Linked DNA regions of Homo sapiens. The protein of the gene in region 2 purifies or fractionates together with the protein of the main gene of each other region. This does not show direct contact. Each region holds a gene or a part of one and is shown on either strand. Other genes may lie near its edges.

What was found.
Region 1: the proteins of MAGED2 (region 2) and NAP1L4 purify together in Homo sapiens (affinity purification with mass spectrometry; 4 studies listed by BioGRID and IntAct, with this or other methods). This does not show direct contact.
Region 3: the proteins of MAGED2 (region 2) and RIC8B purify together in Homo sapiens (co-immunoprecipitation; 3 studies listed by BioGRID and IntAct, with this or other methods). This does not show direct contact.

The regions. Positions count from the first base shown.
Region 1 is NC_000011.10:2,989,062-2,996,638, forward strand, and holds the start of NAP1L4 (nucleosome assembly protein 1-like 4), read right to left. Parts: upstream 3,269-7,577; 5' UTR 3,193-3,268; exon of another isoform or gene 3,168-3,192; intron 3,047-3,167; exon of another isoform or gene 2,733-3,046; intron 2,731-2,732; exon of another isoform or gene 2,451-2,730; intron 2,043-2,450; exon of another isoform or gene 1,848-2,042; intron 211-1,847; exon of another isoform or gene 68-210; intron 1-67. UniProt on the Homo sapiens protein: Acts as a histone chaperone in nucleosome assembly.
Region 2 is NC_000023.11:54,803,416-54,810,744, forward strand, and holds the start of MAGED2 (melanoma-associated antigen D2), read left to right. Parts: upstream 1-4,329; 5' UTR 4,330-4,387; intron 4,388-4,930; exon of another isoform or gene 4,931-5,018; intron 5,019-5,665; exon of another isoform or gene 5,666-5,808; intron 5,809-5,887; 5' UTR 5,888-5,916; coding exon 5,917-5,961; intron 5,962-6,306; coding exon 6,307-6,798; intron 6,799-7,329. UniProt on the Homo sapiens protein: Regulates the expression, localization to the plasma membrane and function of the sodium chloride cotransporters SLC12A1 and SLC12A3, two key components of salt reabsorption in the distal renal tubule.
Region 3 is NC_000012.12:106,777,493-106,784,949, reverse strand, and holds part of RIC8B (chaperone Ric-8B), read right to left. Parts: intron 954-7,457; coding exon 906-953; intron 1-905.

The DNA of each region.
Region 1 (7,577 bases), on a different chromosome or scaffold from region 2:
TTTCCATTACTATATGCTCAAAGACAAACCTTACAACTATAGTTTCGGGAGGCATAAATTTGCTTACCTCAGGAGGTCCCACAAAAATTCAGCTGAGGCCAGGTAACAGCAGTTTCCTGCAGAGATCAGCTACTTCCTATCACCATAGTGGTCGAAGAATCAAACGAAGTAATATCAGATTTCTACTCTGGAAGCCTAAAACACTTTTCCCTTTAAGCAAAAAAGCAAGCATTCCTTAGCTAGCAATCTCAGGCCAAACTCCCAACAAGCTCATCTCTGCTGTCTTATTCAAATATAAACCATCATGGTTTCAAGCAGTAACAGCACTCGCCTATTTCACACAGCTGACGCCTCTTAGGCCGTCAGGAATTTAAATCACCTTCTTGCCCACAAAGTATTTTTCTTCCAAAACAAACTGAAAAATATAGGCTCTTTGGCAACATTTTTGGAAGTACAACATAAACTTATCACAATAATTTTTAAACTGCAGACAACTAAAGGGAAGGAAGAAAAGCACTACTATATATACATACATATTTGAGGTCACCTCCTCCTGATGCTAGAGACTATCAACTGCTCAAAAGAAGGAAAACAAAATAAAGATTTCAGTCCCCACACTTAGCTGCGAATAGCTAACAAAGGGAATTAACATGCGGTCAATAACAAGAGGCTACTAAAAACTCTGACAGGTTAGGAAGTTTTCATTTCAGTTTCAAATTCAAATTCATACTGTAAAGTGGTGATGAACACATCCCATCCGCAGGTACTTAACCTCCATACAAATAAGAACTACCTCTCATATGGGCAAAAAGATCAAAATTCTACAGAAGAATCTGATGGCTAAATGGCTAATTTGCAAAACACAATGCCCTGTACATTTTGAGGACATCCTAAAACATGTGTAAACTTTTCAGAATTCAGTTTACCAAAGTTATCAAACTTAAAAATGATTAAAATTTATTTGCTACTGCAAAGAATTCAACCAATTTCTCCAATGACTACTCCATATTCATTTTGAAAAACAGTACCGGATTTAAAGCTTACACAACAAAATTCACAAAAGTGTTATATGTGCCTATATGACATATAGGCACAAATAACTGCAGACATTCTGAAGCTAACACTGCTCAACCAGGAAAAAAAAAAGACTGCAATTGGATATGTAATAACAGCTATTTAAGACGGCAGTAACGTGTTAAAATGGTTCATAAAAATCACATCATAAGGCCCTGAAATTCTAGTAAAAATATCTCTAAGTAAACTTGTGAACTACTACTAAATAACTAATTTTCTCTCTCTCTGTAGTCACTCATTTTATCTTTGGATTACTTTCCCATTCTATCACCACGTTGCTTTCTCTGAACTTCATTTTACATTTGCATATTATTTATTCCATTAGCAATTGCTCATCCCAGTCTGAATCTCAAAATTCTACTATAGGAGGCATTTGGCATTCTGTGGAATAAGAGAATTTTGAGATGGAAATGATCAACCAGCTCAAAACCTCGTAAGCTAGAGTTCAGTTAAGCTTAGCACAATGATGAAAACAATTTCTCATTAAAACTTCTTTCATTCCCTCTACAGAAGCAGTAACCCTGGGTACAGTTAAAACTGCCTGGGTCTTTAAGCTTTGTCACCTCGGACAAGTCATTATACCTAACCTCCCAGGGCCTCAGCTTCCAGAGTAGTTAAATGGAAAAACAATAGCATCTATCTCAGGTTATTAGATTATGAAATGAGTTAACACACGCAAACAGGCTGAAAGAGTCCCTGGTGCGCAGTGCAGGTATTAGTCATTTAGAGGTATAGTTACTATTACAGGAAGGTAGTAACTTAGAAAGACTTACCTTTAAGGTCCAACAACCTAATCTACATATTTGTATATTTCTAAGGTAAGAGAATTTTTAAAAGTCTATTTTCACCCCGTAAACCTAATGCAGGAGGATAAGGCACGGGTTACTACAGGAAAAAGTAATGCAGACTGGGGGATGCGAACCAAAGCACAGACGAATGTGCCCCGACGATTCCTCCGAGAACATAATGAAATGGCGGACCTTCCTGCCAGAGGAGCGCACAGTCACCCAGGCAGGTGATGTGACACACACGTTAGGGTCTAAAGGTCCCAAGGCTGGAGTCCCCTTTACTGGACCCTAAACATGTCTGCCTCCTGCCCCGCAATCAGACTTAGAGAACTGTGGACGGTGGAAAGTCTTATCATGACCAGGCCATCCTTCGCTGGGGTGAACGGAAAGCATTCAGAAGGGGAAAATTGAAAACAACAAAGACTCTGGTCAGGTCAAAAAATACAAATGTGACCTCTTCCACCATCTCTGAACTGAAAGAAAAGCATGGCACTTTCCCATCCATAACATGTACAATTTTTTTTTTTGGAGATTTTGCTTTTCCCTTGTGAAAGACGGTTTTAAATAGTAAACAGACTTGCTGCCCACCTTGGCTGGGAAACCAAGTCCCGTGAGTAACTAGTCTAAGGCCACTCAGGCCAGTCCTCGGGGAGCGCACGCCGCCCAGCTCGCTCCCACCGCACAGCTCCCAACAGCTAAGAAGCAACGCCAAGGACTTTCTTCCCCGTCAGACATGCCCTCGGCCACACCAAACTGACATCAAAACCCCAGTTAGCCCAGCCTGACCCCACAGAGGCTCACGATGACAACCGCCCTACGGAAAAACTCAAATTCCTAAACATCTAATAAAGAAGTCCTGGACGTCTCCACCTTAAAAACGGGAAGCCTGAACGCTCCGGCGCGCCCGGCCGTGTAACCGCCACAGCCCCCGCACGCGGGGCGGGCTGGGCTAGCGGGAGATTTGAGCGGCCGCCGCCTCTCGCCGTCTTCGCCTCCTCCAAGGGGCCGCCGCCCAGGAGGCCGCCCGCGGCGCAGAACAAAGCGCCTTGACCTTCAGTGAGGCGGGCAGCCGGGCGAGGCGCGCCGGGAGTTGGGAGGGGCCTCCCGCCAGCGCCCCAGGCCCGGGCTCCAGGCCCCAAGCCCCAGGCCCCGCCGCGGCCGCCGCTGCCTGCCCCGACCAGAACGCGGCCCCGCCCCTGCCCCACCGCCCCGAGGCTTCCAGAGATGGCCGCCGCCGCGCCCGCGCCGGACCCGCGGCCCCACCCGCCCGTCCGGGCCCGGCCGCCCTCCCCAGCGCGCCGTTACCGGCCCAGCACCCGTGTCTCCGCACCTCACGCCTCCTGCGGCAGTGGCGGCGACCCTAGCTTCGCTCGCTTTGGGGCTGCGCCGCCGTGGCCTCCAACAACGCCGGCTCCCATTGGCCGAGGCTCCTAGCTCCTCTCTCCGCGAGCAAGACAGGCTGCGATTCGCCGAGCGCGGCGCAAGTCAACTGCGCTTCGCGCCGCAGTCAGCAACCAATCACAAGCCTCCGAAGAAACGCCGCGCCATATGCAAATATTCCTCCGCGCGGCGCGCGCCCTGCGTTCCTCCGCCTCTTTAAATGGGGCGGGGCAAGGTGGAGACCGCGTGTGTGGTTCCGGGGGGTCCCGGGTCCCCGCTCCCGGGACCTTCCCCGGGTGGCACCACATCCTCGCGGGACACTGGGCACCACCCCTCTCCGTGGGCCCCGGCCCCAGCCGTCTTTATCTCCTGCGCCCTCCCAGTTCCCTAGTTCAATCCCGTCCGCGGCGGGTCGGTGCCTCCAGCACTCCGTGCGCCCGCTGATGTGAGAACCCCACCTCCCATGTCGTCCCCTCGCGCTACTCCTTGAGAACATCGCGGAGGGCCCCTCCGCCTGGGAGCCGTTTTCAACCAGCCCCGTTAGTGGTTGGGACGTAAGCCTAACCCCCGCTCATCCCCCAGGTCCCAGGTTGGAGAACACTTCCTCTGCGAAGAGGTCGGGGCTGGGTCACCTCCGCGGACAGGACGGGACTAGCCACTGCCTGCATCTCTTCCCCCACGCCCTGAGCCCCGCAGTGTCCCAGCAGCCTAGTTCTGGCCTGCGGGAGACCCTGTCGGACAAGGAGGAAAAGCAGTGCGCACTGGGCCCTCAGATCAGCCCCCTGAAGCAGAGCAGGGCAGAGGGCTGGGGAGGAGCTGGCCTGTTTCGCCCGCCCTGTTCTCCCTCTCATGGTGCCCTCTGGGCTGGGGTGAAGGTACCAGCCCCAGCCTGTGCACATCACATTTTGTAGAAAGGCATCCAATTTGATTGGAAAATAACCCCTACGCTGGGACTTTTGAGGCTGGTTCATTTCCATGTTCAACCGTGCCATTGGGGGTCTTCAAGTCTAATGTGCATTTTTTTCAGAAACGTTCTCTTTTGGGATGACGTTACTTTTGAAACAATTGCTAATTATTATTATTATTAGCAAGTTATTCCTGTAATGGGGAAAATTTGAAACCATTTAAAGGCTCCTGGTTGAGGGATTAAGAACATAGCGTCGGTTATAAACCTCAGAGGTAAGCTGGGAGGCTGAGGCAGGAGGATTCCTTGAGCCCAGAAATTCAAGTCCAGCCTGGGCAACATAGTGAAACCTCATCTCTAAAAAGAAATTAATGCGGAGCGCCGTGGCTCAGGCCTGTAAACCCAGCACTCTGGGAGGCAGAGGCAACAAGTCCAGCCTGGGCAACATAGAGCACCCTTCCCCTGCTCCAAAAACAACAACAACAAAAAATTACCCAGGCGTGGTGGCTCAGGCCTGTAATACCAGCTACTTGGGAGGCTGAGGTGGGAGAATTACCTGAGCCCGTGAGGTCAAGGCTGCAGTGAGCAGAGATTGGGCCACTGCACTCCAGCCTGGGTAACCAGAGGGGGACATTGTCTCAAAAAGACAAAAAAAAGGCCGGGCGCGGTGGCTCAAGCCTGTAATCCCAGCACTTTGGGAGGCCGAGGTGGGCCGATCACGATGTCAGGAGATCGAGACCATCCTGGCTAACACGGTGAAACCCCGTCTCTACTAAAAATACAAAAAAATTAGCCGTGCATTGTGGCGGACGCCCTAGTCCCAGCTACTCGGGAGGCTGAGGCAGGAGAATGGCGTGAACCCGGGAGGCGGAGCTTACAGTGTGAGCCGAGATCGCACCACTGCACTCCAGCCTGGGCGACAGAGCGAGACTCCATCTCAAAAAATAAAAAATAAAAAAAAAACTAATTAAAACAAAAAACATAAAAACCCCTCAGAGGTGACCGGTGCATGGCTGAGGCCTGACCCACACAGCGTGCTCAGTCCTGTCTGGCCATCTGTGTTTTAGGAGAGGGTGTGTGTGCTCTCAATTCCTATTTTACTTATTTAGACTTTCAGACTTTTCTACAAAGGTCATGCTTTATGCTTTGCGGAAGCATAAACAATGATAGAAATGACACAAGAACCTGGGCATTTGAAGTTTGGAGGGTCCTTCCTCCCATCTAATAAAGTCTCAAGACCATTTGCAGTAATGGGATCCCCCTGCTCCTGGATGTTGGGGTTGGTGGGGGTGGCATCCGGGTGGGTGGATCCTCTGAGGGAGCTGGGCCTTGGGGCTGGGGGCAGCTGGACCTGCTCCCTGGGAGATCTGCTGGAACTGGAATGATTGTGGTGGTGGTGTTTTTCTCTTGGTGGTTGGTGGTTTCTCTCCTTGGAAGATTCTCATTTGGAAATAGAGTCTTCACAGATGCAATTAGGTAATGAGGTCGAGTGGGCAGATTGCTTGAGCCCAAGAGTTCGAGACCAGCCTGGGCAACATGATGAGATCCCATCTCTACCAAATATCTAAAAATTAGCTAGGCATGGTGGTGCATCTATAGTCCCAGCTGCTTGAGAGGCTGAGGTGGGAGGATCACTTGTGCCTGGGATTTAGAGGCTGCAGTGAGCTGTGATCATGCCACTGCACTCCAGCCTGGGTGACAGAGCAAGACCAAGACCCTGTGTCAAAACAAAGAAGTCCCCAGATGACACTGACATGCAGCCAGAGCTGAGGGCCACTGGGATCAGGACTCCCAGGGTAGCTGGCGCTTGGTGAGTTTCATTCCTGTTTTCCCAGCGCTGCCTCTGCCAGGCCTCAGGCATGAGCCCACCTGTCTACAACCCCTCTGCTGCCTCAGCCTCCTCCAACCTGGAGATCAAGAGTCCCCTCCAGAGGCTACCTTGCCTGTAGTTCTGCTCTTGGCTGCCTTGTCCTCACTGAGGCTCCGGGAGACAGTCCCGGACAGACACCACGTGTTTCTTCTTCACATTGCCAGCACCCGGAAAAGTGCCTGGCACTTGGCGAGCTGTGCCCTTACCTGGGCGCTACTGACAATGGCTACACCTTGGCCTGGAAGTAGAGGCAGCAATCACTGCCCCATTCAACAGAGGAGAAAACAGAGAAACCCCTCTAACGCCCCCAGCTAAGTGGCTCTGGCCCTGGAGGGGGCGGCCATGCCCTTCACCTGTGGTGGGGGCGCTACTCCTCAAAAGACCTCGCAGCCGCCAAGAGCTGGAGCCGAGGCCTCAGAAATGCCCAAAGCCCCCTCAGTAGGCTGGGGGCTCAGCCTGTGGGGCATTAACAAAGTGGGGCCCTGGAGACATCCAAGAGAGGTGGCTGGTTTCTCCTGGTATATGGAGAACAGAAAACACCCATGGCGTACTCCACACAAGAGGGGTGCGCAGACAGGGAGTGCCTTTGCAAGCTTCCCGGCCTCAGAAAGAAGGCATCTGGAAGACTGTACCCCAAATGTTGTAGGGATTTGAGAGGTAGGGCACGGGGTCTTTCAGTTTCTACTTTATATTGGAAGTTTTCCGTATTATTTATTTTTAAATAATGAATACATGACGTTTTTATAGTAAAGACACCAAAGATTGCTCTTTGGGGAAAAACAGGAAGATGTAAATCTGGCTCTTACAGCTGAACAGAGCTTTCATGTACAGAAAAGAAACACTTTCCACAGGCAAACTAATATTATACAAGAAAAGTGTCCACCCCACGTTGTTCCAGAAGGATCTGCTGCAGCCTGACAGCAAGAGATTGCAGGGTAGGGAGGTGCTGGGGTCCTCTTGGGGGCCAAGCCAATGGCCTGGGCCCAGCCAGCCTATTGTCACTGCAGGCCCTCGGACCCAGCCTGGGGAGACTGGAGGAAGTCAGGGAAGGGCAGAGAGAAGGCGCACCGGGCAGTGGGCCCTCAGAACGGGGAAACTCCAGGCAGAAAAGCGGCCCAGAATCACTCTGAATTGGGGGGCGTGAAACAGGGGCCACAGCCTGGCCCTACTGCAGTCCAGGTGGAGCCAGGCCTTCACCAGCTGTGGGGACCAGGCGTGCCCCTGGCAATCTGGATACGTTTTTGTGCAGCCACCACTGGAAATGGGGCACACGCCACTCCTTCTTGCCTCCTTGGATGGCACCGCGGCTTTGGGCCAACCTCCGCTCACCCCAGTGGTGGCAGCTAAAGACAAGGGTATTTCCTCATGGCCCAGTTGTCAGGATATTTGATACATGGTTTCCAGCACAGGCCAGTAAAGAGGATACACTGTGGAAGGGATTGCTGCTGCTGCAGTGCCGGCTGCACTTCATCAGTTTCCTTGGCTAAAGGATACTGAGTTACAGGTTTCAGGCTACTTTGTATCTCATTAAAGACACCTCTCCATGCAGCCGCCATTATCA
Region 2 (7,329 bases):
CCAGTGGTGGGAATGGTTATGGAAATCTGAAGAACAAGAAAGTCTGATGTCCAATTTAAAGTTGATTTCTATGCTGAGCTGCATGGTTTAAATGACTAAAGAAATGACAGGCAGCCTTAAAAGGAAACCTTTGCTACCCTCTCCCAAATTTTCCAAAATTCAGAGATACGGATTCTGTATAGTTTAGGAGAAAGTAAATGTGCTAGGATAGGATTGGTGGTGGGGATATTCTGGGCTTTCCATTTGAGCTTCAGGAGTCTGGAGTCTTGGATGCCTGTGGGACTAGACAGTTCCATCTCTACATTCTGCACTAAGCAATCCTTAGCCTGCCTTTCCTTATCTCCAGAACAGAGCTGCCTGATGATAACGGCTTTTCATCTTTCCTCTTAGTTGATATGTAGGATCTATATGGTCTCAGATATTTCTCTACTGATTTATGGGTGCTAGAAATGGGCCTGAGACCCAGTGACCTAGGTTCTTCAGAGTTTATGGGTGAATGCTGAAGATCAAGATTCCAAGAGTTCACAAGGAGAAGGTGGGAGGAAATCTCTCTGGTCAAAGGGTAAAGATTATGAACTAATTTGTCTTTTCTCCCCCGATAAGGCTGCCTCCTATCCTCTGATCCCCAGGTCATAAGATAAGGTTGTTAATGGTATTATGTTATGAAGGTGGTGGAATTGAGAGGGGTCTGGGGAAGTTTGGGTTTGACAATCTTTGGGAATGCCTCTCTGATGGATTTGGACTGAGATTTCTTCTGACTTCCTGAATCCAATAATATCTCCTAACGTTCTGACTCTGTATTCCTTTAAATTACCCCAGGATCCCAAAGACCACAACTGGGACCTAAAACATTGTGAAACTTAAAATGTTGGAGGTTGTAACCGAGCATAGATATACCAGAAGGGTAGTTGTAGCAGAGGGTGTTCCCCATGGGGACAAAATTGCATAACAAAGGCTCCTAGGCAAGAGAAGGCAGGGCATATCTGGTAATAGTGAAGTGTTCTGTTTAGGTGGAATATAGGCAACTATATCTAGTACTCTCAGAAAAACAGCAGGAAAAGGGCTGGAAAAGCAGTCAGGGCTGGATTTTGGGAGAGCCTTGAAATCAAGCTCAGGCGTTTCTTGGGAAAGCATTCCATACCCATTGTCATGTATACCTCACCTGCTATTCATATCTCAACTCACTGCAATCAGGAAACTGTTGCATGGAATAGACTCTGAAATAACAATAGCTTAAATAAGACATACATCTATTTGCCTCACCTAAAAGAAATCCAGAGGTAGGCAGTTCACGTTGGCTTCATGAAATTGTTACGGATCCAGGTTCTTTTTAGTTTACTAATCCAGTATCCTTAGAGTGTGACCCTAGTCCTCATGGCCTTTATTCTGGGAGGCTATGTATCTAGCTAAAAATCAGGTGACTTATTACTAAGGAAGAAGAGGAGGATGAATACTAGGGTAAGCAATTAGCAAGCTATGCCACAAACATGTGCACTGAAACTATTCCTTCCAAGGTCACCAGAGACCACCACTTGATCGTCAAAATCCCCAGACATTTTTTCAGGTCTTACTTTTCTTGATTCTTGGCACCATTCATCACTATTGACCTTGACTCCTCCCTCCTTTTGAAACAATCTCTTCCCTTACTTTTGTGACACTCCTTTCTCCGGTTTTTTTTTTTGTGTTTGTTTGTTTGTTTTTTTTGATGGTGTCTCACTCTATCACCCAGGCTGGAGTGCAGCGGCACAATCTCGGCTCACTGTAACCTCTATCTCCCAGGTTCAAGCGATTCTCCTGCCTCAGCTTCCCGAGTAGCTGAGACTACAGGTGTGGTCCACCACACCCAGCTAAATTTTTGTATTTTTAGTAGAGATGGGGTTTCACCGTGTTGACCAGGCTGGTCCTGAACTCCTGACCTCAGGTGATCTGCCCACCTCAGCCTCCCAAAGTGCTGGGATTACAGGTGTGAGCCACCATGCCCGGCCCTCTCCTGTTTTTCTCTCTGCCTCTTTGGTCACTCCTTATCAGCCTCTTTCATGAGTTTCTTTTCCTCCACCTATACCAAAGATGCTGTTGGACTGCAGGGCTCTTCCGTGGGCCCATGTCTCTTCTAGCACTACGCATTCACCGGGGTGCTGTTACCCTTTCTCAGGAATTCAAGAACTATTTATGTACTGATGACTCCTAGATCTATAACCTCAGCCTAGACCACTTCTCTGAGCTTCAGATATGTATATTCAACTGCCTGTGGTACATTTCCACCTGGACATGCCACAGGTGCCTCAAAAGCAATGTTCAGTTCTTGTCTAACCTGCTCCTCAAACCCGCTCTTCCTTCAGTATTCCTGATCTCAGTGAAAGGGGTTACCATTCACACAATCTCTCAAATCAGATCGCCAAGAGTTCCCTTTGACACTCCCCTCCTCCTTGCCCTTCTCTTCACAATCCAGTTACTCAAGTCCAGTTACTTTTTACTTCTTTACTATCTCCTCGATTCAATCACTTCTCACTATCTGCCACCACTCTAGGCCAAAGCACAATCATTGCTTACCTAGATGACTACAAAAGTCATAAGCACTCTCCCTGTTTCCAAGACAACACCTAATCCACACTCCATATAGCAGCTAGGTGTTCTTTCTAAAACACAAACCTATGCTGTATCCTTGCCTAGAATTCTTTAGTAACTCCTGGGTGCTCTCAGGATCAACACCAAAGTCCTCATCTTGGCATTCTAAACTTGCCAACTTGCCATGATTTGGAAGGGGTGGGGAATTTGAGATGCCAGAAGTAGAAGAAAAGGAGGGGCTATGTCTAGTGTGGATAAGGGAGAAAATCTAGGAGGCAAGAACATGGTGAACTGATATCACACACTTGGAGAAAGCAATAATTCAGAGAAAGAGAAAAGACAGGAAAACAGAAGCCTGCCTTGAATATGCAAGAAATTTGTGTGTTTGTCTATCTTGAATTATCCATGGAACACAGGGATTCATTATATGTTATTTACATAGTAAAAGGTGACCACATAAAGCAGAAGACTTGTGTCCATTTGAATTACATTTATATGTGGAAAGGCACTGAATATTATTTCTGCAACTAACAGTTGTGCTGAATTTTATTATGGTTTCTAATAACTTTTTAGTTGATGCTCTTGGGTTTTCCAGGTCTGCATTTATATATTCAGTAATTAATGATGATTTGTCTATTTCCTATTATTTTACATCTTATTTTGTTCTCTTGAACAGATCCAATTGGTTATGTGAATTTATTATGTGATAGAGGTGCCATTTCAAAGCAGAGAGGGAAAAGATGGATTAGTTTGCACATGATGTAGAGGTAAGAGACTATGATTTTGAAGAGTAATCAAGCTGAATCCGTATAGAAAATAAATTTTGAAATGATCAAACATCTAAATGTAAATAATAAAGCCACAAAAGTGCTTGAAAAAAAAAACGGGGTTTGTTATAGGAGTGTGAAAAGCATCTTTAAGCAAGCAGCAGAATCCAGTTGTGATGAAGGAAAAATGGATATATTTGACTACATAATAATTAAACATTTTTGTTTGGCAAAAATTATCATAAATAACATGAAAAATATTTGTAATATGTGACATGTACAGGAGAGACATTGCTGGCGGGAATGTTATCCATTTACTTTTTAGGAGTAAGTTGACAAATTTTGCATCAAAATGGAAGACTTTTTTGTAGCATTTGAGCTAGCAAAAAATACCATAAATAACAAAAAGTGCACCAAGCAATCTAAATGTACATGTGTACTGGACTGGTTCAATAAATTATGGGACATCTATGCAAGAAAAGATCATGCAGCTGTTTAGAAAAATGTGCACTAACGGAAAGATGTTTTATATATAACTGGAAAAAAACAGGTCGCAGAACAGAAGGTATGTATAGTGTACCATTTGTCGGAGAGAGAACCTGAATAATTAGTATACGAATAGAAAAAAAATCTGGATAGCAAAATGTTAATAGTGGTTATTTCTGGGAGATGAGTGGCCTTTCATTGGTGTGTTATATATTACTGCATTGTTTGAATTTTTACAACAACAACAAAAGAACAACATATTACCTTTGTAATAAGAAAAAATGAAGATATAAAAATAAATTCAATGAATGACTTGCTTTCAGGGGGCGGTTTGAGTTGGAAGAGCTTCAGACTGAGCCTGGTACAGTGGCATAAACATGGGCTTTGGCGTCAGACAGCCCTGAGCGGGGCCCCATTGCCCCACCCCCGAGGAAGGCGAGGGGGGGTGGCAGGGGGCTGCGGAAAGGGGCTGGGCTGGGTTGGGCTGTCTGCAGCTCTAGTCCAGGAGGCTGAGACTTCGAGAGGGACTTAGAGAAGGCAGACGCATCCCGAACTCGCTGGAGGACAAGGTGAGGGGCGTTGATATTGGGGTTTTATGGAGGTCAGACAGTGGTTCCAGACCCCTCGAACCCATAGCCAGGCAGATGAGCAATTCTTACTGCACCACTGCAGCTGAAGCAGAGGTGACCTGGAGTGGGGTGTAGGCAATGAGGACGACTGAGAAAGTAGTAGGCTGTACAGACTGGGAGCAGAGACTAGCGGAGGGAGGAGGGGAGAAAAACGGGGAACCAGGAATGTTGGGAGGGGGACGAGGAATACAAGGAGGGAGGGGAACACTGAGGGGGAGTGAAGATCCAGAGAAGAGAATCGGGGATGCAGAGAGGGATTAAGGAATACTGAGGGGCAGGGTGTGCAAACGTAACACGGAGGAGGATGTAAGAAATGGGAAGAAGGAATTCTGGAGTAAATAGGAAATGTGAGGTAGGAATAGGGAGTAGGGAGCCAGGCTAAGGGAATACGGAGGGGGGCATAAGGAATGAGGAGCAGGGAGCGGGGGAGGGGCAGACAGGCTGGGACGGAGGCCCCCTAGGGAGGCGGAAAGGGGCGGGACCACTTCCGGCCTAGAGAGGGGAGGGCAGTCTCCGAGTTTCGGAGGGGCTTGGAGTGAGTGGACGCACTCGGGAATTGTAGGAGGACGAGGTGAGCAGCCGGGTCGGCTTTTGGATGAGAGCCCCGCTAGGGGTCGGCCCCACCCTCTGGGATCTGGAGAAAACCTGCCTTAAGGACCGGATCGTACCGGATCCATCCGGCTGGGAAGGGAGGGGACTGGACCCGGTTTGGCCGGGCCCAAGATGGAATCACTAGCTCAGTATTTATTTGAGGAGGGGGTGTAATAGGGAAGGGGCGGAACCAAGATGCGCCTGTTTGGAGGGGGGCGTGTTAGGAAGAAGGGCGGGGCCAAGAGACACTGGACTCTGTAGGGCGTGAGTAGGGGAGGGGCCGGGTCCACCAGACACTGCGACAATTTTGGAGGAAGGCTTGTTGGGCAGGGGGCGGGACCGAATGGTACTGCGGACCTGGAGAGGGGCGTGTGTTGGGGCAGAGTGCCAGACTGAGACCACGACCATTGCGCATGCGCACTATGTTTCGCTAGAAAGGGGCGTGTTGAGAAGGGCCAGCACTGAGAAGAGCCAGCTGCTGAATGCGCATGTGCACGGTGGACATCAAAGAAAGGGCTCGTGCTGGGAAAGCGGGCGGGGCTGAGAGCGGCCCTGCAGCCGACGCGCATGCGCTCTATCGACCTGCGGCTGGGTGGGGGGTGCACTGGGAAAAGGGGCGGGGTCCTCAGAGCTGCCGCGCTGGCACATCTTCCTGGAGAAGGGGAGGGTGCGGCTGCAGAGAATTGAGACTTAGAAGCTTTGAATTCCTGTATCTGAGAACGGAGTCGTTGGGGGTGGTGGAGGGGGTTGGAATTGGGGACCTACGGAAGGTGAGGATCAGCCTCCAGGCACAACAGGGGAGAGGACGTTCAGTGGGCTTCAACTTGACCCAGGCCTTCTCCCCTTCAGGCTCAGCTCTTGCCAGGCCAAATTGAGACATGTCTGACACAAGCGAGAGTGGTGCAGGTCTAACTCGCTTCCAGGTAAGGCCTCTTTCTGTCCTTTCCCCAGCTGCTTTTCCTCTCCAGCCCTTGTTGCTGCCCCCAAGTCCCTTGGCTCTTCCCCTCCCATCCTTGTCCTTCTCCACCTACTTTCCTGCCTGGGTGTCCCCCTGCCCAGTGGAGGGAGGGAGAGAAGGTGGGCGGGCCCCTCTTCTGCCATCAGTTCTTGCTCAGAGGAAAGGGAGGCCTTGTTGGGCTGAGGTGGTCAGAGCACACCGCAGGTAGGAGTCAGTACAGGTCAGAGAAGTGTGGCCTTGGAATTTTGGAGCCATTTGCTTAGTTGGGGGTGAGGAGAAGGTCTATGAACTTCCCTGCTTCCTCTTGCAGGCTGAAGCTTCAGAAAAGGACAGTAGCTCGATGATGCAGACTCTGTTGACAGTGACCCAGAATGTGGAGGTCCCAGAGACACCGAAGGCCTCAAAGGCACTGGAGGTCTCAGAGGATGTGAAGGTCTCAAAAGCCTCTGGGGTCTCAAAGGCCACAGAGGTCTCAAAGACCCCAGAGGCTCGGGAGGCACCTGCCACCCAGGCCTCATCTACTACTCAGCTGACTGATACCCAGGTTCTGGCAGCTGAAAACAAGAGTCTAGCAGCTGACACCAAGAAACAGAATGCTGACCCGCAGGCTGTGACAATGCCTGCCACTGAGACCAAAAAGGTCAGCCATGTGGCTGATACAAAGGTCAATACAAAGGCTCAGGAGACTGAGGCTGCACCCTCTCAGGCCCCAGCAGATGAACCTGAGCCTGAGAGTGCAGCTGCCCAGTCTCAGGAGAATCAGGATACTCGGCCCAAGGTCAAAGCCAAGAAAGCCCGAAAGGTAAGACCTCTGCAGTCACCACCCTTGGTTTTCTACTCCTCTCTCAGTTGATTCATTTGTTCTACAAACATTTAGAAAGATCCCTGTGCTCATCAGGGCTGTGGGGGGCACTGAGAGTAATGTGATGTAATTCCTGTCTTCAGAGAGCTTGCAGACTGATGGGGAGGTGCAATCTGAATGTAATGCAGTTTATGTTTACATAGTAGCTGCCCTGTATTAGGCCTTGAGCTAAGCACATTTATGCAGGTTATCTCATTAAATCTTGAAAGTAATTCTCATAGCCCCAATTTTATGGAGAAGGAAGCTGAGTTCCAGAGAGGTGAAGCGGCTTGTCTAGGATGGTTCAAGCAGAGCCAGTAGTGGGCACAGAAAGAGAAGAAGACTCAGCCTCCACCCACCCTTGGTTTGCTCCTGGCCTGCTAGGCAGATGAAACACCTGCTTGGAAGTCAGTGAGAAACAAATCCAGGGTTCAGCATGGCCAACATCTATTGAGTCAGGCTGTTACTACAGGGGTGGGATTAGCGGGTGCT
Region 3 (7,457 bases), on a different chromosome or scaffold from region 2:
AGTAATCAGATGTAGGCCTGAATTAGAGCAGAGGTTAAGGAGAAAATGGATGGAAGAAATCTGAAAACGTAAAATGAGCAAGACACTGATATTAGGTATGGGGATACAGGTGAATGGAGGAATGATTTCAAGGCACTGTCAACCCACTACTAGCAAAATACTGGATTTAAGCTATTTTTCTAGCAGCAGTGATAGATTTACACTGATTCAGTCATACTCTCTTGTTTGGTTCTGGCATTTGTATAGCCAGGGATAGATGTACGGAGTACAGCAAGACACAAAGGCAGGGCCAGGCATGGTAGCTCACACCTGTAATCCCAGCACTTTGGGAGGTTAAGGCAGGAGGGATCACTTAAGGCCAGAAGCTCAATAGACCAGCATGGGCAACATGATGAGACCCTGTCTCTACAAAAAAATTTTAAAATGGGCATGCTGGTGTGTGCCTGTAGCTCTAGCTACTGGGAGGCTGAGGCAGGAGGACTGCCTGAGCCCAGGAGTCTGGGGTTACAGTGAGCCACTGCACTCCAACCTGGGTGATAGAGCGAGACCTTGCCTCAAGCTAAGTTTTGTAATATTAGCAATGGATTTTGGGCAACCTGGAGTCTTGCCACTAAACAGTCAGTCTTTGGGAGTGAGTAGATCTGGGAAGAGACTCCTCTGAATCCCTCCCACTCCCCTGATTTATACAAGTGTTAATAGTCCTGCGAGGACAAAGGAGGAAAGAGTTACGTGTAACCCAAACTAAACCTAACCTAACCTTTCTTCTCAGGGTTCCTAAAAAACAAAATGAAGGGAAACAAGAAACCAATCAATAACCATCAGATGAAAACATGACCACTGCTTAGAAAGTCCATGAATGCAATACACACACACATAAACATTCACAGAGCAACACCAAGGCTTACCTTTCTTTTATCTTCATCTGTTGATTCAAATTTGAAAGTAGCCCTATGCTGAGGGGGAAAAAAGGGAAACAATGTCATTTTAAATACATGTATTTTTTAATTTTGGCTACGTTTAATAGCATCTAAAATAATGTCCCTGTAAAAAATGTTGCCTTCCCGTATCTCAATATTCTTATTAAAGTAAGGGAGACAGGCATGTAAACAAATAGTTATAAAGCAGTGTGAAAAGACTACAGCAGATATATATACAAAGGAGCACAGCAAACCAAGCCACTAACTGCCCAGGAAAATCCGGAATGGCTTTCACAGAATACAGAGCATTTGTGTTGGATCGTGAGGGATAAACAGGAGTTTGCCAGAGGCAAATGGAATGCATTCCAGGAACAAAAACAAAGGCTCGAATGTGTGAAACTATATGATATATTTGTGAAATAAGCAACTTTGTGAGACTGGAACACAGGACATACGTTTGGGGTGGGGCATGGAGGAAGAAGAGAATGGAAAAGTAGACTGGACAGTGATTTGGAAGGGCCTTCCGATGCTGCTGAGTTTATACTTTCTTTTTCATATGCAATAAGAAATCATCAGAGAACTGTGGATAGGGAAGACTTGATGGTTTGATATTTCAGAAAAGTAATTCAATAAGAATAAGAGTTTAAATCATGGTGGCTCCACCACCTACTAGCTGTGACCTTAAGCAAGTAAACTCTCTGGAACTGAGTTTCTCATCTGAAAACAGGGTGTACCTAGTTCATAGAGAGACTGTGACAGTTAAAAAAAAGCTAAGGCATGTATATAAAGCACAATCTCAGTGCTGGCAAGTAGCAATACTCAGTAAATATTAGGGATATAATGATGATGATGCCAATGATTATGAGGAAAAAATAACTGGAAAGGCAGAGAGTGTCATGACTCTTCTGCAATGATTGGCAATACTATATTTTCTACTCTGTAGCTGAAGTAGAGGGGAATAGAAGACAGAATAAGTTGGCTTGCCCATGATCACAGAAAGAACAATGGTACCCCAAAAATAGAGCACAGAATTCCTCATTCTCCTCTGAAGTTTTATTCAGGAGAACCAAGTACTCTTAAGAATTCTAAGCCTTTCTATTAAAAAACAAAAATCTCCACCAAAAATCTCTCCACTTTTTCTTTTTTCTTTCTCTCATTAGCCACACTGACAAATATTTACTGGCAACCCACCAGGAGTGAAGTACACTGAGTACTAAAGATATCATCATCACAGGTGGTTCTGTGTTGACATCTTTGTAGAAGCAGCAATTTTTTAAATTAAAGAAGATAGAGAAATGTTGGCAGAAAAGAAGTTCTGAATGTAAGAAATGATCAGAGGGAAGACTCAGAGGTAGGAGAGAGTGGCCATTTGAGGGAGGGAGGCTGCCTCGAATATAGATGCAAAACAATTAAAAGGAATGAACTCAGGTGGTAAGGGCATGGATTTTAAAATTTACACCTGAATTGGCAAATAGGTGACAGGCAACCAGGGGAAGACTACGACGGAGGTGTGAGACCAGCATTCTGGTAGAACATTTTGGGCGGTAGCTCACAGGCCAGATTAAAGGAAAGCAAGACTAAGGACATAATGCCCTGTGAGGAATGGACATCAATAATCCAGGCATGATACTCCTGGTGGCAGTATAAACTGACATAAACCTTAAAAGAGAAAGTGATTTGGCAACAACACATATTAGAAGACATAAAAATATTCATATTCTTTGACCCAGAACTCCTACTCCTAGGAATTTATCCTACTGATCTAGAAGGAGAGAATAATTATATGTGTATCACTGCAGTGTCATCCAACATAGTGGAAGAAAAAAAGCGAGAACTGGAATAACCAACAGGAGACTGACGGAATGTTATGCATGTGACAGTATTCTATTATACATAATATATTCACCTGACAAAATATTATGTAGCAATTTTTTAAAAAGAAGACTCATTGTTGGTATATTGTTTTCATAATAAAAATTTTTTTTAAATAGATAATAAAGAACAAGAAAAAGAAAGAAGGAGGAGAGGAAAGAAAGATTGTAAATCTGAGGGCTATACTTAGAAATGTATAGACCTGAGGTTTAGTGAAAATTAACATTAGACTTAAAAGTGCCAGATATCAGGTTAAAGTTGTAAACTAAAGCCCCTAAAGGTTCAATACAAATGAAAATAATCGCACTAAGAAACCAAGAAAGCCTATTTTTTTGCCATTATATGTAAAATGCTAATTCCATAAATTATCTGGAATAAATGTACCTACTTGTTAATATAACGTTTCTTCTAAACTTTTTTTTGGCATTAATGGTAAGGGGAAAGAAAAATAAATTGTCTTTTGGAAAGACACTCAGTAAGTTATAAGTGTCTTTTAAACAGTTCCTCTGTAGAATTAATCTTTTAAGGTGGGAATTCAGAATAGTACCAAGGTCTAATTATTCTGTTGCTCTTAATTAGAAAATATAATGGTCTGTGAGGCACTACAAATTGAATCTGGAATGCGCCAATCTATTCAGAAGCTCAAACCTCTAAGAGTGTTTGGATCCAATAGATGTTGGCTTCTATAAACCTGGGTTCTTTTATCCAACTTAGATCATACTTAACTTATTCAGTACCCCTATCTTTATTCTCTCCCCTTTCTAAGGCTGAAATGGGGAAAGAGAGAACAAGCATTTCCAGCTGTACATGTATTTCTAGAACTGTTAGCCAACAGTCAGCCATCTCACCTTCTTTACATGTTTAATTTCCAGAGAAACAGGAGCAAAAAATCAAATATAAAGAGTTAAATTGGCCGGGCATGGTGGCTCACACCTGTAATCCTAACACTTTGGGGGGCTGAGGTGGACAGATGGCTTGAGACCAGGAGTTTGAGACCAGCCAGGGCAACACGATAAAACCCCATTTAAAAAAAAAGAGTTAAACCATTGTTCAATTTAGAGATCAAGCAAGCTAACAGCTCAGTGACACACCAGACTATTATGAGGACTCTCACTACAGGTTTCATACTCCATGAATAAGCTCTAAAAAGCTCAGGATCAGGAGTCAGACAACCTTGAGTTTGAGTCCAGTCTTACTGTTTACTAAAAGTGTAAACTTGGTCAAGTTATTCAACTTTACTACCTATCAAATTTTCCTTATTTTTTATAAGCATGGCACCTTGCACACAGTAGTGTTCAATGGCCACTACTGTTATTGTTGAATAACCTATGGTGTGGCATCTGGCCAAATATTGACCTATTAGAGAGCTAGGAATAATTTCATAGATTTCTAAAGATACACTCAAACAGCACTACTACAAGGGAATAAACCTAATTGCGTGGTGTATGTTGTGCTGTTTCATGAACACAGATTGCTTCTACAACTAAAAATTAGAAACAAATTATATAACATAATCTGGACATAAGAACAAAGTATAACAAAGGAACAGCCCACTAAACATGCTTCTCTGCAAGAACCCACAGAGTGAAATCAAAGAGTCAGAGCCCAACTTCCAAAGTAGAAAACAAAAAGTCCTCTTACATGGTCCTGGATATTTACATACTCTATTCAAATGTAGAGGCTATATTTATAGAACTGTCCCAATATCAGGTTTCTATGAATCAGGTTCTTCTAGCACATGAATGAAGACCTCACTGCCAGCAGTCTTGTTTTCTTCTCCTAAGAGGACTACTACTAGAGACCTACCTATCTGTCTGTATCTTAAATACCTTTCATTTGGCCAAAAACTTGCCATACTTCAAAACTGGAATGCTGCTGGAATTTGCTATGTATGGGGTAGTCATATGTCCAGGTGGCCTGCAGGGCCACCAAGCCACGTCTCTGGTTATCATCATAGTTGATGAGTCATCTATTAAACGAGGGGGTTGGGCCCTATTATCTTTGAGGCTCCTCTAACATAAATAGCCTGCGATGTAAAGAATCATGATACTACTCCATACCTCAGGGCCCTTAGTCACAGTTTGTTGTTGATAATCATGATAATGATGGCAACTAATCTCTCTACTAAATGTGTTATTAGAGAAGTCCTGAGGGCTGGGCACTGTGCCTCATGCCTGTAATCTCAGCACTTTGGGAGGCTGAGGCCCAGAAGTTCAAGACCAGCCTAGGCAACATGGTGAGACCCCCAACTCTACACACACACACACACACAAAAAAAAAAAAAAAAAAAAAGAACAGGCCCCCGTGGGGGAGCAAGAGCTTGAACAGTCTAGACTGGAATGATACATAATTCCCCAAATTAACAGTTCATTCTATAACTAAAGTTGAGGTGATTAGGACCCAACAGTAGCCAAAGGATTCTGTATCTGTGGATTCAACCAACAATGGCTTGAAAATATCTGAAAAAAAAAAAAAAAAATTTTTTTTTGTGTGTGTCTGTGTTGAACAAGTGCAGGCTTTTTTTTTTCTTCTTGGCATTATTCCCTAAATAATACAGTACAACTATTTGTATACCATTCACATTGTATTACGTATTATAAGTAATCTAGAGATTAAAGTATATAGGAGAGGCCAGGCATAGTGGCTCATGCCTGTAATCAGAGCACTTTGGGAGGCCCAGGTGAGTGGATCACTTGAGGTCAGGAGTTCATGACCAGCCCGGCCAACATGGTGAAATCCTGTCTCCACTAAAAATACAAAAATTAGCCAGGCATGGTGGCACACATCTGTAGTCCCAGCTACTCAGGAAGCTGAGGCAGGAGAATCGCTTGAACCTGGGAGGCGGAGGCTGCAGTTAGGCGACATCAAGCCACTGCACTCCAGCCTGGGCGGCAGAATGAGACTCTGTCTCAAAAAAAAAAAAAAAATGTATATAGGAGGATATGCCCAGCCAGGCTCAGTGGCTCACGCCTATAATCCCAGCACTTTGGGAGGCCGAGGCGGGCAGATCACCTGAGGTCGGAAATTCGAGACCAGCCTGACCAACATGGTGAAACCCCGTCTCTACTAAAGATACAAAATTAGCCGCGCATGGTGATGCATGCCTGTAATCCCAGCTTCTCAGGAGGCTGAAGCAGGAGAATCATTCGAACCCAGGAGGCAGAGGTTATGATAAGCCGAGATCGCGCCATTGCACTCCAGCCTGGGGCAACAAGAGCAAAACTCCATCTCAAAAAAATGGAGGGTGTGCCCAGATTATATGCAAATACTATGGTGTTTTCTATCAGGGACTAAAGCATTAGAAGATTTTGGTATCCACAGATTCTGGTATCCACAGGAGATCCTGGAAGCAATCCCCTTTGGATATTGAGGAATAACCGTAGTATACCACTCCTGAAAAAGAAACTTTTTCTGTGCTCAAAAACACAGAAGAGACAGGGTAAAGGCAACATAGCCCTGCAAAAAGATCCCTGGATATGGAATCTGAAGACCAGGTCTGCCATTTCTTAGCTATGTGACCTTGAGCCTGTATATAGAATACTTCCATCTCCCTCATAAGTTTTAATATAAGAGGATTAATATAAGAGGAATTAATATAAGATGACATACGAAATGTGAAAATGCTTGGGATAATACATAGTACATAGCAGGCACTCAATAAATGTTAACAGGTGCATTGAGAGGAGAGAAAAACAACTGCTCCTCCCATTAAACAAACAAACAAACAAAAAAACTTGCCTATGCTGAGACCTATGCTGTGTCATGCCCTTGACAAACAGACAAGTTTCATTCTTTCTGGGATAGATACATATTTCCTCTCTCCAAGATAACAAAGGTCAGTGAATGAAGCAAGAAGGCTTGGAAATGAGAATCTATATAACACAGTAGAAATTAGATGTTTCCCGGAGCCCGACAGGTATCTCTAAAAGCGGTACAAGGTACAATTTTGCTACCCATTAGAAAAAGAAGGGGAAGAATGGAGCATATTCCCAAATTTTAATATCGTGCTATCCCAACTCATGCCACGTTTAATTTTTTTGTTCAAAGCTAACAGTTATGGGGTGCCTCCTCAGTGGCAGGCACTGTTCTGTGTGCTTTACACATGTAACTCATTTAATCCTGACAACAAATCTATGATATAGTTACTATTATTATCTCCATTTGGCAGATGAGGAAACTAAGCCACAGCAAAGTTAAGTAACTCGTTTAGGGTCACACAAGCCATTAAGTTGAGGATCATAGCCAGGCTGGCTACAGAACCTGTGCTCCGGCCACACCTCTTAGGTACCCTGGTCATTATAACTGTAACTTACTGAGTGCTTCCTAGGTGCATTGTGCCCAGTGTTGGCATTATATTTCATTTAATGTAATCCTCACAATAATTTAAGAGAATGGTGATATTATCCCTATTTTACAGGTAAGGCAACTGAGACTCACAGGCTTAATATAATTTATCCATAGTCATAAAGCTAATAAATGGCAGAGTTGGGATTTGAACCAAGTTTATCTGATGTCAAATCCCACCACCTTTCTACTACACTTGACTGCCTCCTTTCAAGGACTAGCTTTATTAGAGGTATAAGGTAGCATAAAGAACCTCTCCACTACTCTCCCAAATAACGAACCGGTCTCTCTCTCTCTACAGCATTCATTTCTCTCTGTTGGACT